Regions from separate parts of the Homo sapiens genome. Here all the other regions are linked to region 1. The links come from fine-mapping of genetic effects on gene expression. A gene starts in region 1. Each other region holds a variant in brackets. All regions are shown on one strand. Distances are from middle to middle.

Region 1 (5,325 bases):
ATCAGCCCTATATAGAATTTTGGATTGCATGTCCAGGAGCTAAGTATGATTAAATGTGCCATGTGGCAAATACTGAGAATCTGTTTGATTCAGCTGGCCACTACTTCCCAAGCAGGGTACCATGTGCCTGGCACCTAATAGATGCTAATTTCTTCACTCATTCTTCAATAATGTAAGTGGTAAAAAAGATAGTCTCTGCATTCTCAATAAATCTGTTGAGAGAATGATACAAATTAAAGATTTGTTAAACAAATTAATATATGTATATAAATATATACATGCACTTCAGTTCATCAACACAGTTACATGTCTTTAGGAGACTCAATTTCTCTAAGCCTTGGTGTTTTTGTCCAACTAAATGCAGATGATGCCAACTTTACTAGGTTATGTGAGAAGTGAATGAGAAATTCTAGAAAGTGCTAAGAAAATGGCATATGTCATAGCTCATAAAAATGCTGCCAGCACCTCTTAAGGAAATTAAAACTCCAAAGGTAGTTCCGACTGACAAATTTTTAAAGATATTTGTGTGAAAGACGAAACAGTTCAATAAATGTACTTAATTTATATAGTTTACAGTAATCCAAATAGTTGTTTAGTTTTATAAAACTACAGTTTCTACCAAGCTCAGAGAAAAAACACCACCGTAAATTCACAGTTTGTAAAACAAATAGTTCAAGGATTGCCACGTGTTTTCGGCATGGCAAAACAAAAATCTGTATGTAGGTGAAAGTCAGAAGCGGATATATTTTGGCTCGGTATTAGGAAAAAAGTCCAACACTTCCAAATACTTAGTATTTCCAAATACTTTCCACAGCTTCACATGCAGAATGCCATGCCTCAAAAGGTTCACGTCCTAATACCCAGAACCTATGAATATGCTGTTACATGGCAAGAGGGAATTAAGGTTAAAGATGGAATTAAGGTTTCTACTCAACCTTGAGATGGGGAAAATATTCAGGATCATCCAGATGAGCCCAATGTAATCACAAGGGTCCTTGTAAGTGGCAGAAGGCAGAGGGGAGTATTAAGAGTGACGTAATGTGATAAAGACTGAACCAGCCATTGCTGACTTTGAAGCCCATGAGTCAAAGAATCTTAGAAACCTCTAGAATCTGGAAAACTTAAGGGAATGGGGTCTCGAGCCTCCAGAAAAGAATGCAGCTCCTACCAATAGCTTGATTTTAGCCTAGTTAGATCCATTTTGGACTTCGGACCTCTAGAACTATGAGATGTGAATTTGTGTTGTTTTAAGCCACTAATTTCTGGTAATTTGTTGCAGCAGCACTAGAAAACTAATTTGGCTTTCCTTGAGATGCCATGCCTTCTTCCTGACAGATGGTATTCAAACTGGGGTAGACAAGTTGTTCATGGTATATGTCTAGGGGATAGGGAATAGGTAAAAAAGCATCATGAGGATGCAGATAAGGATTGCTTGCCTAACTGAGTTTCTAAAGGCATTAAACTGGGCCTATGTATACTTTTTTTTTTTTTTCTCCTGAGACAGGGTCTCACTCTGTCACCCAGGCTAAAGTGCAGCGGCAGGATCATAGCTCAATGAAACGTCTAACTCCTGGGTTCAACGGATCCTCCTGCCTCAGCCCCTGGAGTAGCTGGGATGCCAGCACGCCTGGCTTTTTTTCTTTCTTTTTTTTTTTTTAAGTAGAGACGGGGGTCTCACTTTGTTGCCCGGGCTGGTCTCCAACTCCTGGGCTCTAGCAATCTTCCAGCTTCGCCTCCCAAAGTGCTGGGATTACAGGCGTGAGCCACTACGTGCACATTTTTGTGTGTGACCATTTATGGTACTTCCTCTGTACAGAGAGTCTGTAACATTTTCAAAGATTCTCAAAAGGATCTGCTTGATAAACAAGATTAAGAGCACTCTTCCTAGATTATATCCAATACTAAACTTTTAATATTCCATGATTTTCTAAGGCAGTGAGTCTCAAAGCTCATTCCATTAAATGTCAAAATAAAACATCAAAACTCATCCAACATTTGTAAAATGCAGATTCCTGAGCCCCACACCAGACCAGACCGAATCTCTAGGAGCTGGAAAAAAGTTTAATTTCAACAAACTTGGAGGAGGGAAGAGAAGGAATTCTGCACACACTGTTAAAGCACCTCTGCTCCAAGGAATATGTTATGAAACATTACACCAAAAATGAAATAAATTGTTCCCATTAAGGAACCTTTAGGAACCCCAATACACTCATCTTACCATATGACTTTGTGTGATTTTTTTTTTCTGAGCCTAAGGTAGCTCAGAATATGAAGGCAACGTCTACTAGACCTATTTAAATTAAAATTCATTCTGTAGAGTGCCAGGAACGATGATTGGCAGGTAATACGTCACACTAAAAAACGTCAGTCCTATTCTCCATCCCCGCCTCCCTCCAACCTTCTCCCAAAATAAGGAAAAATAATACCCGGCCTGCCATTTTGCATACTGTTAAATACTGCAAGAATTGTGTTAACTGCATCAATATCATTACTAAACAACAATTTTCTATAATAAATTTTTGGTATGATTTATCTCCTAAATGTTTGCTCTTTCAAGCGAATATTTGCTTGAAACATTCTCCTGGACCTTTGTCTATCGTGATGCCGTAGGAATTTACAAATTTAAGTCTTCCACGAGTCATGGCGTGGGGTAAAACTCGACTGGCCTCAATGAAAACACCTCCTAACAGAGAGAGGCCTAGAGAATAAGTAAGAACTCCCAACAGTGGCTTTTCAATCTCGGCAACCTTGGGCAGCTTTTTCTCGTCCGAGACGTTTGACAACCCTAAAGAAACCTGAGCCTTGATTGGAAAGGGGGCTGAGGGAGGAGAGTTTGGGAACCCTCTCTGCGCCTCACAAATAACCCAAATTCCAAGGCAAGGTCACAAAGCCATACAAACCAGGGGGCCTAGGGCAGAGTCGAGTTCTCTCAGCTGCCAAGAAAGCCCTTCACAGCATGCATTAGGCCAAGTCGGCGGACCCCAACCGGAGAAAGAGGAAAGGGAATAAGGAGCCCGCGCACCTTCACACCCAAAAGCAGGCCCTCAATCATAACTGCCCCTGTCCCAGGCCCATCACTCAGCTACACAGAGAAGCTGAGCGAGCCCCGGCCACTCACCCCGAAGCCACTGCGTGCTGTGAAACCATCTCCAATTAGCTCCGCGGCTTACAGACCACCCAAGAGCCCCCTTCACCAGCCCTACGCTTCGGCGGCCGGGGAAGCCCACAAGATAACGCAGCAGCCGCGGATCACAGCCCAGCCTCCAGGAGGCCGCCATCTTGACGGCCTTCTCACTGGCTGCCCGCAGCACAGCCTGATGTCCAGCATCAAGGCCCCGCCTCCCGCATGGTTGGCCACGCCCCCAGACGCTAGCGGTGCCTTTAGGTCTCTCAGACTTGAACCCCCGCCCCCCAACCCAGCCCCGCCTCCAACCACGTTGGCCTTGCCTCCCGGGAAGTCAGGTGCGCCGCTGGATATCTCAGCCGGCGGGGCCTTACCAGACCCCGGCCCCCGCCCCGTTCGCCCCGCCCCCGGGCTGCCCTCAGCGCCGCCTGATTGCATTTGCGGCCTCGCTGCCGTATCCCAGGCTAAGCGCCGCGCGCAAAGCCGTGCGGAGATTGGAGGCCGCGCGGGTCCCTGGTCTGGGCCATGTCTGGCTGTGATGCTCGGGAGGGAGACTGTTGTTCCCGGAGATGCGGCGCGCAGGTAGGGGCGGGGCCACCGGTGCCCGGTATTCCCAGGAGGAGAGGCCCAGGCGGGACCCGGCGGCTGGAGCTGGGCGCAGGGTAGCGGGCCGGGCGTTTAGCTGCGGGGCGGGGTTTCGGGCCTGGCCGTTCGCTACCCCGGCGCACCGCGACCTTGGCGTTCGGAAGCAAGGCTGCGAGGCCCCAGGAGATCAGTGGTCTCGGGCGGGGCGCTCCGATGGCGGGAGCTGGGCGCCAAACGTTGGAAAGAAGCAAATAACTGAGAGAGGAGAGCGTTTAGGTGACCTCACCGGGTATTTATCAGGAAGGCAGGCCAGAGAAGGAATCGTGAAGCACCGAAGTGGAGCTGGGGCGAAGACCGCGCCCCCCAAGCTTCTTTTCTGCGCCCTGACGACCAGTTAGGCGTTTGGGGGGACGTTTGGCACTCGGGAGACGTTTGCCGAACCGGAGCTGTGCCTCAGCTGCCAGCGCTTTGCCTTTGAGCAGTTGCTCCTTGCCTATCTCCGTTTAGATGAATTGTGGGATGATCATGGGAACGATTCTTCCTTAAGCCGAAGTCAAAGGGAAATCCACCCTCACGCTGCATGTAGTTTTCGGTCATTTACACAAACCAACAGTTTTATGGAGCGCCTTCTACACGCTCAGAGATAGGGATACGTAAGATAAATGGCCCAGGGTCTGGAGAACTAGACGAATAAGCAGTTTCAGCACAATATGATAAACCCCACCTAAGAGGCAGGGAAACCCCTCAAAATTAGTTTCCTTATTCCCCCTATCTTATTCCTCCTATCTATATCTTTCTTAGGGTTGAAAATCCTAATTAAAAAGTAGTAACTCGCGGGAGATTTCATTGCTAAACATTTGTCAACCACTTTCTTGTTTGAATAAGTGACTTCCCCAAATTAGCAAAGACGACTCTGAAAATAGAATGCTGCATAGGCAAGATTGGATGAGAGAGAGAAGATCTTGGAGACAGGACAGGTAACTGGAGATCGTTCCTGGGCAAGTGTGTATGGAGAAGTGTCCGTACCCTCAATCAGTAAATCTTAGTGTAATGTCATCAGAATGAGCATCAAAGAGAGCCTTAAGGGACCCGAGAATAAACTAGGATTCTCAAACCAAACATGGCCCACAGACAGCTTGGTGGACAGGCATGTTTTTTTTTTGCTGCACTCAATGTTCATGAAAAATTTGAGCCAACCTTTTTTTTTTTTTTTTTTTTTTTTTGACACGTTTTGCTCTTGTTGCCCAGGCTGGAGTGCAGTGGCGTGATCTCAGCTCACTGCAACTTCTGCCTCCTTGGTTCAAGCGATTTTCCTGCCTCAGCCTCCCAAGTAGCTGGGATTACAGGCGCATGTCACCACACCCAGTTAATTTTTGTATTTTTAGTAGAGACTGGGTTTCACCATGTTGGCCAGGCTGGTCTCGAACTCGTTATCTCAGGTGATCCACCCCCCTAAGCTGCCCAAAGTGCTGGGATTACAGGTGTAAGCCACCACGCCCTGCCAAGCCAACATTTCAAAATCCAGAATCATTTCAGCTTCTTTTAAAACCTCAGAACACATGGTGACATTGGGCCCTTATTTTTTCATGGGATCTGGATTGCGGTTACTAGTGAAC
Region 2 (5,325 bases), 37 kb after region 1:
CAGCAAAATATTTGCCTTTAATTTCTTTTTTATATATACTCTCAGAGAATTCCTCTTAATTTTTAAAGATGCTGGTGATAATAAAATTCATTAGAAAATTTCCTCATTGTGGAATGAGCATTCTCTTGTTTTAATGTTGGTGTCAGAAAATAAATATGAAACATTAAGTCCAAATTTATCCCTCAATGTTAATGTCAAAATAATTTTATAGATTTCCCCTATTAGCTTTAGTGTTTCCCTGTGGTCTACAACAGGACACTCATTTTATATTGGGATCAGTTGTGAAATTCAGGTCAGGTGGTATCAACTCAAATTCCCTTAACCAAACAAATCTTGATCAAACCGATGATGTAATCAGAAAGTCCTTTCTTTAAAATTGTTTTAAATTTTAGGTTTGGGGGCCCACATGAAGGTTTGTTACATAGACAAACACATGTCACAGGGGTTTGTTGTACATATTATTACATCACCCGGGTATTAAGTTCAGTATCCAATAGTTATCTTTTATGCTCTTCTTCCTCCTCCCACCCTCCGCCATCAAGTAGACCCCAGTGTCTGTTGTTTCCTTCTTTGTAGTCATAAGTTATTGCCATTTAGCTCCCACTTAGAAGTGAGAACATGCAGTATTTGGTTTTCTGTTACTGTGTTAGTTTGCTAAGAATAATAGCCTCCAGCTCCATCCATGTTCCCGCAAAAGACATAATCTTGTTCTTTTCTATGGCTGCATAATATTCCATGGTGTATATGTACCATATTTTCCTTATCCATTCTGTCACTGATGGGCATTTAGGTTGATTCCGTGTCTTTACTCTTGTGAATAGTGCTGCAGTGAACATTTGTGTGCATGTGTCGTTATGGTAGAATGCTTTATATTCCTTCAGGTATATACCCAGTAATAATAGGATTGCTGGGTCAAATGGTTGTTCTGCTTTTAGCTCTTTGAGGAATTGCCATACTGCTTTCCACAATGTTTGAACTAATTTGCACTCCTACCAACACTATGTAAGGGTTCCCTTTTCCCTGCAACCTTGCCTGTATCTGGGTTTGTTTGTTTTTTCTTTTTTTTTTTTTTTTTTTTTTGTGACAGTCTTGCTCTGTCACCCAGGCTGGAGTGCAGTAGCACCATCTTGGCTTACTGCAACCTCCATCTCCTGGGTTCAAGCGATTCTCCTGCCTCAGCCTCCCAAGTAGCTGGGATCACAGGCATGCTACCACCCCCGGCTAATTTTTGTATTTTAGTAGAGACAGGGTTTCGCCATGTTGGCCAGACTGGTCTCAAACTCCTGGCCTCAAATGATCCGCCCACCTCGGCCTCCCAAAGTGCTGTGATTACAGGCATGAGCCACTGCCCCCAGCCTGTTTTCTGGATTCTTGGCGGAGGTTCTTCCACTGGGGAAAAATAGTTTTAGCCACCTCTGGTTAATTTCATTTTCCTCATTTTAAAATGCAGCTAATGAATAAGATAAAGTATGTGGAGGAACAAACCACAATGCTTAATCCAGTGTAGATGTTCAATAAATATTAGTGTTTTTTAAAATCCCTTTTAATCCTCATAATAGTCTTTTGAGATAGATATTGTACCTATTTTCTTAGATGAGAAAATTGAGGCTCAGATAGGAATAATAAATATGTAGAATTTAAATAAGAGAAAACAGGTAAACTTCTTAACACAGTACCTGTCATATACTATGTATGCACTCAAAATATAAACTTCCTTTCCTAAAAACCCCTCACCTAGCTATCTTCAAAGTAATTGTCATGCAGGTAAACCATTTAAACTATACAGCAGCAGCAGCACATCTCCAGTTGTATATTTCTTTCCTGGGAGTGCAGAAAAGATTGCAAAACCTGCTTTAGAGGTAGGGGAACAGCTGGTGGAAGGCTGTATCCCCTAGTTAATATCCTTTTTTTTTAAGAATATGATCCCTCCTGTGTGACTGCTAGGAGCCAAGGTCCAAAGATGAATACAAATCCAGGCTGGGAGCTAATCCTCAGTGCCTGCCACATAGGTGTTCAGTGAATGAGGGAGGGGGAAGCAGGCATTCTTCTTCACATGCCCTTGTGATTGTTGTTCTCTCAGTTATTCCAGCTTCTTTAAATAAGAGGAAAATTTGGTTATGAATGCAGGATTAAACTGCTAAGAGATCTAGATCAAACACATTTTTTATTTCATTAAGTGCAGGACATGCCATTCACTCTCAGATTGAATAAGGGACTATCATTTGTTTCTCAAATGATTCTAGAGGCTTTTGGTCCCACCCAACTTTCTTGTGAGAGATACTTCAAAATAACATAGTTCCCTAGAGAATGTCCCAAAATCCGAAAGGTAAAGTCATAATCTTAAGGAGTGTTTCATTTTATATCTCAATTTGTTCAAATACCTCCCTTTTGAGAAAATTTTGCCATGTCTCATCAGCAGTTCTAGTCAAGATGGTCAGATGTGGAACTAATAATGTTGACATCACTATTCAAGAGGCAATTTGAATTCTCCCACCAAGTTTCTTTAAAGCAGGACTACAAGGCCCAGCACAGTGGCTCACGCCTGTAATCCCAGCACTTTGGGAGGCTGAAGTAGGCGGATCACCTGAGGTCAGGAGTTTCGAGATCAGCCTGGCCAACATGGTGAAACCCCATCTCTACTAAAAATATTTTAAAAATTAGCCAGGCATGGTGGCAGGCACCTGTAGTCCCCTCTACTTCGGAGGCTGAGGCACAAGAATCACTTGAACCAGGGAGGTGGAGAGTGCAGTGAGCTGAGATCGCACCACTGCACTCCAGCTTGGGTGACAGAGCAAGACTCTATCTCAAAAAACAAAACAAAACAAAACAGATTTTGGTTTCCATTTCACTGATCTGTAATTTATAAGCACTGAATCACCAAGTTTTGGATAA[T/C]AATCACTGAAATGGGTATTCTTTTGTGGTCTTAAGTTATAAACACAAATATGCTCTTAAAGTATATTTGGCTTCTGATATGAGTATTAGGGACTTAGGGTTCTAACAAATTTTAATATGTTCTACTATTTTATTCATACTTTTAGTAAGTACCTTTTACTTTTCCTACTTCATTATTGCAATAAGGACCACATCTTTGGAGATGAAACCAGGAAAATTTATATATATATATACAGTAGAGCTTTGAAAGTTAAGTAAAAATTTCCAGTAGTCAAAATTATCATAAAAAATCCTTTAAAATAACCCATCAAATATAGTGCTGTATATGTGATTTGTGAACTTAAGATTATTTCATTTATTCAGTAGTGTTTATCCACGTCCTCAAATAATCATGTTTTGTTTCTTTTGAGGATGTTGATCAAGTCATCACCAGCCTTTTATCTTGAACAATGTGTTTTAAATCATCTGCAAATTTTTCCATTGGTTTCACAATTGTTCATTGTCAGTTTCAGGTTTAATTGCATCTATTGCTTTTAATACAAGCAAAGGAAAAGTACTATTTTCCTGGTATACAATCCCTTTAGGTTAACTTTAAAATAACTCAATACATTGTGATTGGAACCCACTAGACAGTTAGGATCTGTTCTCTTTACTCATGCATGGTTAAACTTTTCTGTTAATAAACATGTCTTTCCCATGCTCTAAACATAAAAGTGTTATATGTGTATAATCTTATGCTCATTTAGGCTTGCATTGTTTGATAAAAACTGGGTGAAAAGCAAAATACCCTAGACACCACCCCCACCAAAAAAAACTACATTAGTGTAAGGAGTAAACTTATGAAACAGTAAGTTGTGCTGTGTTGGTGTCAAATGCTCCTAGTCAAAGCCTTGATGACCATCTGTAAGCTTATCTGTTTGATATAAATGATCTAAAGGACACCCAAAGAAGGTTCCAACAGGCAAGAGAATGGAGTAGGCATCCTCAGGGTGCTGAATATTTCTGCCCATGGCTGGGTAGGAAATCTTTATCCCTCAAGGGATATTACTGTAAACCTTCGTTAGCAAGTAAATATCAATAAATGTTGAATGAATGACTCTTGGTTCTCCAGCAATATTAAATGGGATTGAGGAGTAAAAAGAAGTGTCTATGTAACCTCCTCCAAATTCCATTGTAAGAGAATTGAGCCTAAGAAGAATGAATGCCATGTTAACTTTTATGTTATGGGGCATAATTGGTTATTGTTGTTAATGGAGTAGGACTGAGAAAGTCTTAAATTCCTGTTTGGGACAGAATAGAAGGGGTGGTTAATAATGGATGGGGTGGTTAATAAATAAATCAGTAATGTATTACATCTTAAAGGAAGGAATTGGGAAGAGTAGGATTATAAAATCTTGTTGAGCTTCTCTGATATCTCTTTACTAAATGTCTTTAATTTGTGTAAGTCTTCCCAGTAGCAAACTATGAATCACTTTATACATTAACTGTGTTTAATAATTGCATGAAATATTATAGTTTAGCAAGCAGTTTCACCCTTCTAGTCATCTTGTCAGCAATCCTGATGTCAGTGTTATCACCATCCACCAAAAAACATAAGCTTCTAGTGAGACAGGGCCATGTCCTATCTATTTCCATAGCCCTGTGCCTACGTGTAGCAGACAATCAAAAAATACTTGCTTTTTGAATAAACCCTCATGTTAACAATGAGACACAGGTTCAGAAAGGTTAACTTGCTCAAGACCTGTGAGCAGGAGAGCTGGGAATTTGTCCTAGGCCTTTGGCTCTAAATTGTATGGCATTTTCTCAACCTGGATGAATGAATCCCTCTCAGCAAATGCACATCTATGCATTTTATTCATGCATTTTGAAATTACTCAAGATAATAAACATAGGGACATTTTCAGGTTGATTTATCTGTTTTTATTCCTTATATAAATTTCAGGCATATTCTCTCTAACATTTTAGTAAAACTGCATACATATTTTAACAATATGCATAGAGGTGATTAACATCACCATGTTAGAATATTAGGATGTTATCCATCACACACCGGGGCCTGTCGTGGGGTGGGGGGAGGGGGGAGGGATAGCATTAGGAGATATACCTAATGTAAATGACAAGTTAATGGGTGCAGCACACCAACATGGCACATGTGTACATCTGTAACAAACCTGCTTGTTGTGCACATGTACCCCAGAACTTAAAGTATGAAAAAAAAAATACAAAATTTAGCCAGCTGTGGTGGCATGCACCTGTAATCCCAGCTACTTGGTAAGGTTGAGGCATGAGAGTCGCTTAACATGGGTAAGGTTGAGGCATGAGAGTCGCTTAACATGGGAGGCGGAGGTTGTAGTGAGCAGCCGAGATCACACCACTGCACTCCAGCCTGGGTGACAAAGTGAGACTCTGCCTTAAAATAATAATAATAATAAT
Region 3 (5,325 bases), 28 kb before region 1:
ACATGCAGCTCATCTGTACAAATTGAACTCCAGAGGCACAAATGGATACTTATTATCCAGTTGCAACCAACCAATACAAATTATTAGGCAAACATACAGACTGACTTGGGGACTAATGGTCACCAAGAGCTGAGGAAACAGTTCTAATAATGGGAAAAGTAACATTTATTGAGCAATTGGGTAACAGGTCTTGAGATGAGCATATATGTACTCTCTCAATCTTCCCTACTGTCCTATGAAGTAGGTATTATTATCATCTCTACTTTAACATGAAGAAAAAGGCACAGGGGATGAAGAATTTGCTTATCATTACGTAACTAATAACTGGCAGAACTTTTTAGATATAACATGAATCAGTCAGCGGGGTGATTCCAGAGTCCACAGTCTTAGATGCTCCACCATACTACCTAGTAAAGGTTCTGGAAGTTAAGAAACAAACACGCTGGTTGGCTCAATCAGGGAATATACCACACAATGCTAAATAGTCATGTTTCTACCATATGTAGCTCTACGCATTTTATTTCACTTACTTTTCACATAAGCTCTAATATTCCATTATAAAAATAACGCACATTACAGAAAATTTAGAAAATACAGAAAAATAGGCTATTAGACCTTAACTCTAAAACATTTTAAACACTTGAACTAAAAATGTATTATGTAGTAGACAATACACATTAAAAATAAGGAGGCAAAAATAAAAGGTAATTTTACTACAATGAACTTTCCACTCAAGAAATCTTCATCCTGTTGAAGAAAATTAAAATAAAAACTTACCACGATTTTGGCCAAGATTCCATCATCACTTGCATCTAAGGTAACCACAGCTTTGTCAGTCTCAATTTCACATAATGCATCTCCAGCACTCACCGCTTCACCTACAAAACAAGACTGGGTTTGTTTTGTTTTTTAAAATATAAATATTACTATGTATATATGTACGTATGAATAAAACATAAATAAATACCAAAATATTCCGTAGCTATTTCTGGGTTGTGGAAATACAAGTAATTCTCATTATGTGTGGGTGTTTGTGTGTGTGTGTGTATGTGTATGCTTTGCTGTAATTTCCAAAAGCTCTATAATGGACATAAATTATACTTGTGATAATAAAAAAGCTATTACAAAGATTACTGAGCATGTAAAAATGAAATCAACCTTAAAGACATCAGCAACAAATGTGTATCCACCTCTGAACAAATCAATTCCAGACTCCATATCCCCCTTACTTTTTCAAACATTTTGACTATATTCCCTGAAGAAAAGTTTTACAATTAACAGTACTTCTGGGTTCACATCTTAGGGCAAGTTCAAAAAACCTGTTGGCAGCACACAGTATAAATGAATAAAGCATATAAAGCATAAAAAGAGAAAATCAAAGACACAACTGAAGTCAAATACAGATCATTTCTCTGCAACAGAAAATATCTGGAAACTCAAAAATATGGAGGAAGACCTGAAGTTCCAGGCTTACTAGCTTCTGGATTTAGGAGCAGGTTTGGAGCAAACAGGGGAAAAGAGGTACAACAGTTTCCTTTGGGGATTAAAGGGAACTAAAAGTAGTCTGTTGGATATAGGGGACTCAAATCAGATTCACTATTTGGAGCTAGGGCTAAGTCAGGGTTCTTCTACTCATAATGTGAGGCTGATAAAATGCACAATCAAAACCTGTTGACTGAGACTATGATTTTAATCAGCAACCATGGGTCTAGGAAGGTGGGGACCAGAATACTGCCTCAGTACCAGGAACAAAGTCAAGCCACCCTCTGGCTCCGGGGCTGTATCTGCCAATATCCCCAATATCAATTGCAAAATTCCTTGGATGGTGGCAAGGATCGAGGGGGGACTGCGTAGGAGGGAAGACATTAAAACATAAACTTTCCACTTAAAAGTAAATTGCACAAGAAAGTTCTGAGACACACGAAGAAATCAAAAGCTAAGAAAGCAAGCCACAAAATCAGTAATTGTAACAAAAATTCTTTTCAGAAGCAATTTATTTAGTGCAATCTGTCAAAGATTGTAAAATAAGTACTTGAGGACATCCAAAAACATAAATGAAAGTAAAAGAGCCATCACAAGAACAAGAAATTAAAAAAAAATGGTATCAGGTAGAAATAAAAAAACGAATTAGAAATCTTAAAAATGAAAAATTAAGTAATTGAAATAAAAAGAAACAACAGAATATATTCTAGACAGGGAATAGTGAAGGTATGAATTAGTAAATTGAAAGGTAGCACTAATGAACTACGCAGAATTTCATACAGGCAGACAAAAAGATACAAACATTAAAAACAAAAAACAAAACAAAACGAAAAAACAGAAAAGAGCAGTTAAGTGACAAAGACTGAGGCTGCAATGTTTGCTAATGGAGTTCTGAGGGAAGACACTGGAGGCACTGGTGGAGAAGCAATACCTGAAGAATTAGTGGCTGAGAATTTCCCAGAACTGGAGATGTATACTCTCATCATCAAAGAGTTTTGAATGAATTTAGGATAGGTGTACTGACTAGCAGGGGGCATACGGATCTGTGTAGCTTGCTAAGAATGTTCTAAATCTTGATCTAGGTGGTGGTAACATGGGTATACATGTATACAAAATTTAA[T/C]TGAGCCTAAAGTTTATGCAAGTTATACCTTGATAAAAACTTAAACAGAAAAAAGAGTATTAGACTATATAAACATGAATCCATATTAGATACAATGTAAAGAAACCGCATTCTATCAACGATAAAAACATAATCTTTTAAAAATCTATCAAAGGGGAAAAAAAACAGATTACCTCAATGGAAAGACTGAGAGTACACTTCTCAGCAGCTGCAACAGAGGTCAGAAAACAATGAAGTAATATCTTCAAAAAACTGAGGAAAAATAACTGTCTAGAATTTTGTATGCTGCCAAACCATCATTTGAGAATGAAAGAGAAGTATTCTTTAGATATATAAAGGCTAGGAAATTTTACCACCTATTAAAGATCTCTTTAAAAAGCTCTTACAAGATGCAGTTCATCAAGAAGAAAAGTGGAAGCAGATGGAACCCATGGGCTATAAGAAACAAGTTATTGTGAAAATTACTAAAATGTTAACTACTAGTATTTTTAAAGTAATGTTTGAGGGTTTAAAAAGTGTAAAACTCAAACTCTAAAAAATAATAAGATAGGTAAGGAAATGTTTAGATGGTAAGGCATGCTAACAACTTTGATATATTCAGCTGGTGCAAAAGTAATTTTATTTTTACCACCTTACTTTCAAAAACCCCAATTACTTTTGCATCAACTTATAATAGGAGAAAAATACTGAATAATACTAAACTTTATTGGCAAAATTTAATTTAAAATTTAAAAACAGAAATATAATCTACAGCATTAGAAAAACAGAGGAAAAATAAGAAGTTGATTATCTAACTGAGGGCAGGCACATGGAAAGAAAAGGCAAAGGATAAAAACAAAAATGCACAAAAAATGGTAGAAATAAGTCCCCATGTATCCGTAATCACAATAAATATAAATGGATTAAAATCACCCATTAAAAGTAGAGATTATCAAAATGGATATGAAAATAAAATCTAGGTAAATGTAGCTTACAAGAGATAGCCCTAACACAAAAACAGAATAAAAAACAAGGGGATAAAAAATATGTAACATATAAATACACCTCCTCACACACCAAAAATAGCTGGAATAGCAATATTAACAGGCAAGCATCATAAGAGAATATGAAAGAAAATCTAAAACACTAAATTAACAAATATGCTCTGAACGTTCACAGTACAGAAAGTACTTCATTGTGTACCAAGATGATCAAATTGATAGTTATATCTTCAGGTTAAATAGTTCAGAGACACTAATATAAGTTATTTTTAAAAATAAATTGATATGTTAGATGATATTTATTTACCACCTAAAAGGTCCTTTGTCTAACTCCAAAGAGATGTCCCTAGTCAACAAACATTTATTAAAAATGTATTGGGGTGGCCAGGCGTGTAGGCTCACACCTGTAATCCCATCACTTTGGGAGGCCGAGGTGGGTGGATCACCTGAGGCCAGGGGTTCAAGACCAGCCTGGCCAACATTGTGAAACCCCGTCCCTACTAAAAATACAAAAATTAGCCAGGAGAGGTGGCAGGCACCTGTGGTCCCAGCTACTCGGGAGGTTGAGGCAGAAGAATCACTTGAACCTGGGAGAAGGGGGTTGCAGTGAGTCAAGATCATGCCATTTCACTCCAGCCTGGGCAACAAGAGCAAAAACTCTGTCTAAAAAATAATAATAATTATATAAATATATTTTATATATATATACACACACACACACATATTTGTATTATATATTTATATATTACATATAAAATATATATACATATGTAGGCACTGAGGATACAGCAGTGGACAGTAATAACAGCAAAGATTTAAGATTCCTGACCTCAAGAAGCTTGCTTAATATCCATTGACAAGTAAACTGGAAAATACAGCAGGATAAGGTGAGGTCAGGATGCTTTGGGAATGTTCAGGAGGGGCATCTAATTCAGTTTTTGTAAGGTGAGAAAAGGCTTCCTAGAATACAATGACCACCTATTCTGAGCCTGAAGAGGTGAGGAGGAGACAATCTGTAAACAGGCAGTGATCCAGGTAGAAGGTAATACACTTATAGCCCTGGAGGCAGAGAGAACAGGAAACTTCAGAGAAACTGGCAAATAGTATGCGAGAGAAGTGACGAGAGATTAGGCTGGTAAGATATGCAGGAAGAGACCAAAAATGACCTTTGTATGTCATAGAGAAAGCTACAGTGTCAGATTATATCATCTTACATACTTCTTTAAATGTTTTAGTGGTTAAAACAGATTGCACTTCAAAAGGGAAAAAAAGCACACCCTCAAAGATTTCTGCTATAATCACGGGAAAAACTATAGAACTAGTAAACCCAGCAATTAAATACCTCTTAGATGCCTAGAAAACAGACTCTAGCCACAGAAAAACAAAATGATGCTATATCATCATTTGTGTTCATCAGTATTCAAATTCCAACCACACTTTAAGAACTACAGATTCGACTTCAGCTATATAACTTTCTCTGAGTAACTTGACCTACATAATTTTGTTCATATTCCAGATTCCTATAGTAGGTCTAATTTATTTAAAAATCACAAATTGCATATAAAATGTTATATTACTGCTAATTACTTTTTTAAATTGTGATTTCCTCTATTTACTAGACTATGAGCTTCTTCACAATACGGACAGGACACTTAAATGTTTTATATTCCCATCCCCATTCCTCAGGTTTCATGGCCAATGCACCATACCCAATGAATTTTAGATTAAAATGCTTTAGAAAAA

Which allele goes with the higher level. Alleles are on the strand shown, and positions count from the first base shown. SD is a standard deviation of normalised expression in the study named. Not every link is listed here.
For the expression in spinal cord of the gene that starts at base 3,316 in region 1, allele C in region 2 goes with a higher level than allele T (moderate effect, 0.44 SD a copy in GTEx).

What was found. PIP is the estimated chance that this variant, and not a neighbour inherited with it, causes the effect. A credible set is the group of variants that fine-mapping cannot tell apart.
Region 2: its variant is the best candidate, but not a certain one, in a credible set for the expression of PDHX in spinal cord (GTEx, PIP 0.68).
Region 3: its variant is the best candidate, but not a certain one, in a credible set for the expression of PDHX in T cells (TOPMed, PIP 0.51).

Annotation. Positions count from the first base shown.
Region 1 is chr11:34,914,609-34,919,933 of GRCh38, reverse strand. PDHX (pyruvate dehydrogenase complex component X) reads right to left here and starts at 3,316. Exons shown (of 11, transcript NM_003477.3): 1 at 3,119-3,316. The coding sequence starts at 3,278. APIP (APAF1 interacting protein) reads left to right here and starts at 3,555. Exons shown (of 7, transcript NM_015957.4): 1 at 3,555-3,706. The coding sequence starts at 3,650. RefSeq lists an enhancer at 3,015-3,314 and silencers at 3,485-3,534, 3,555-3,894.
Region 2 is chr11:34,877,144-34,882,468 of GRCh38, reverse strand. It overlaps LOC102723568 (a long non-coding RNA gene), which reads right to left. Exons shown (of 7, transcript XR_007062652.1): 7 at 4,790-5,325. APIP (APAF1 interacting protein) reads left to right here. Exons shown (of 7, transcript NM_015957.4): 7 at 1-174. Among named protein-coding and RNA genes, the nearest start is that of APIP, 37 kb to the left of the region's middle. The variant T/C (reference allele first, on the strand shown) is at 2,893.
Region 3 is chr11:34,943,059-34,948,383 of GRCh38, reverse strand. It overlaps PDHX (pyruvate dehydrogenase complex component X), which reads right to left. Exons shown (of 11, transcript NM_003477.3): 3 at 778-878. Among named protein-coding and RNA genes, the nearest start is that of MIR1343, 3.9 kb to the right of the region's middle. The variant T/C (reference allele first, on the strand shown) is at 2,603.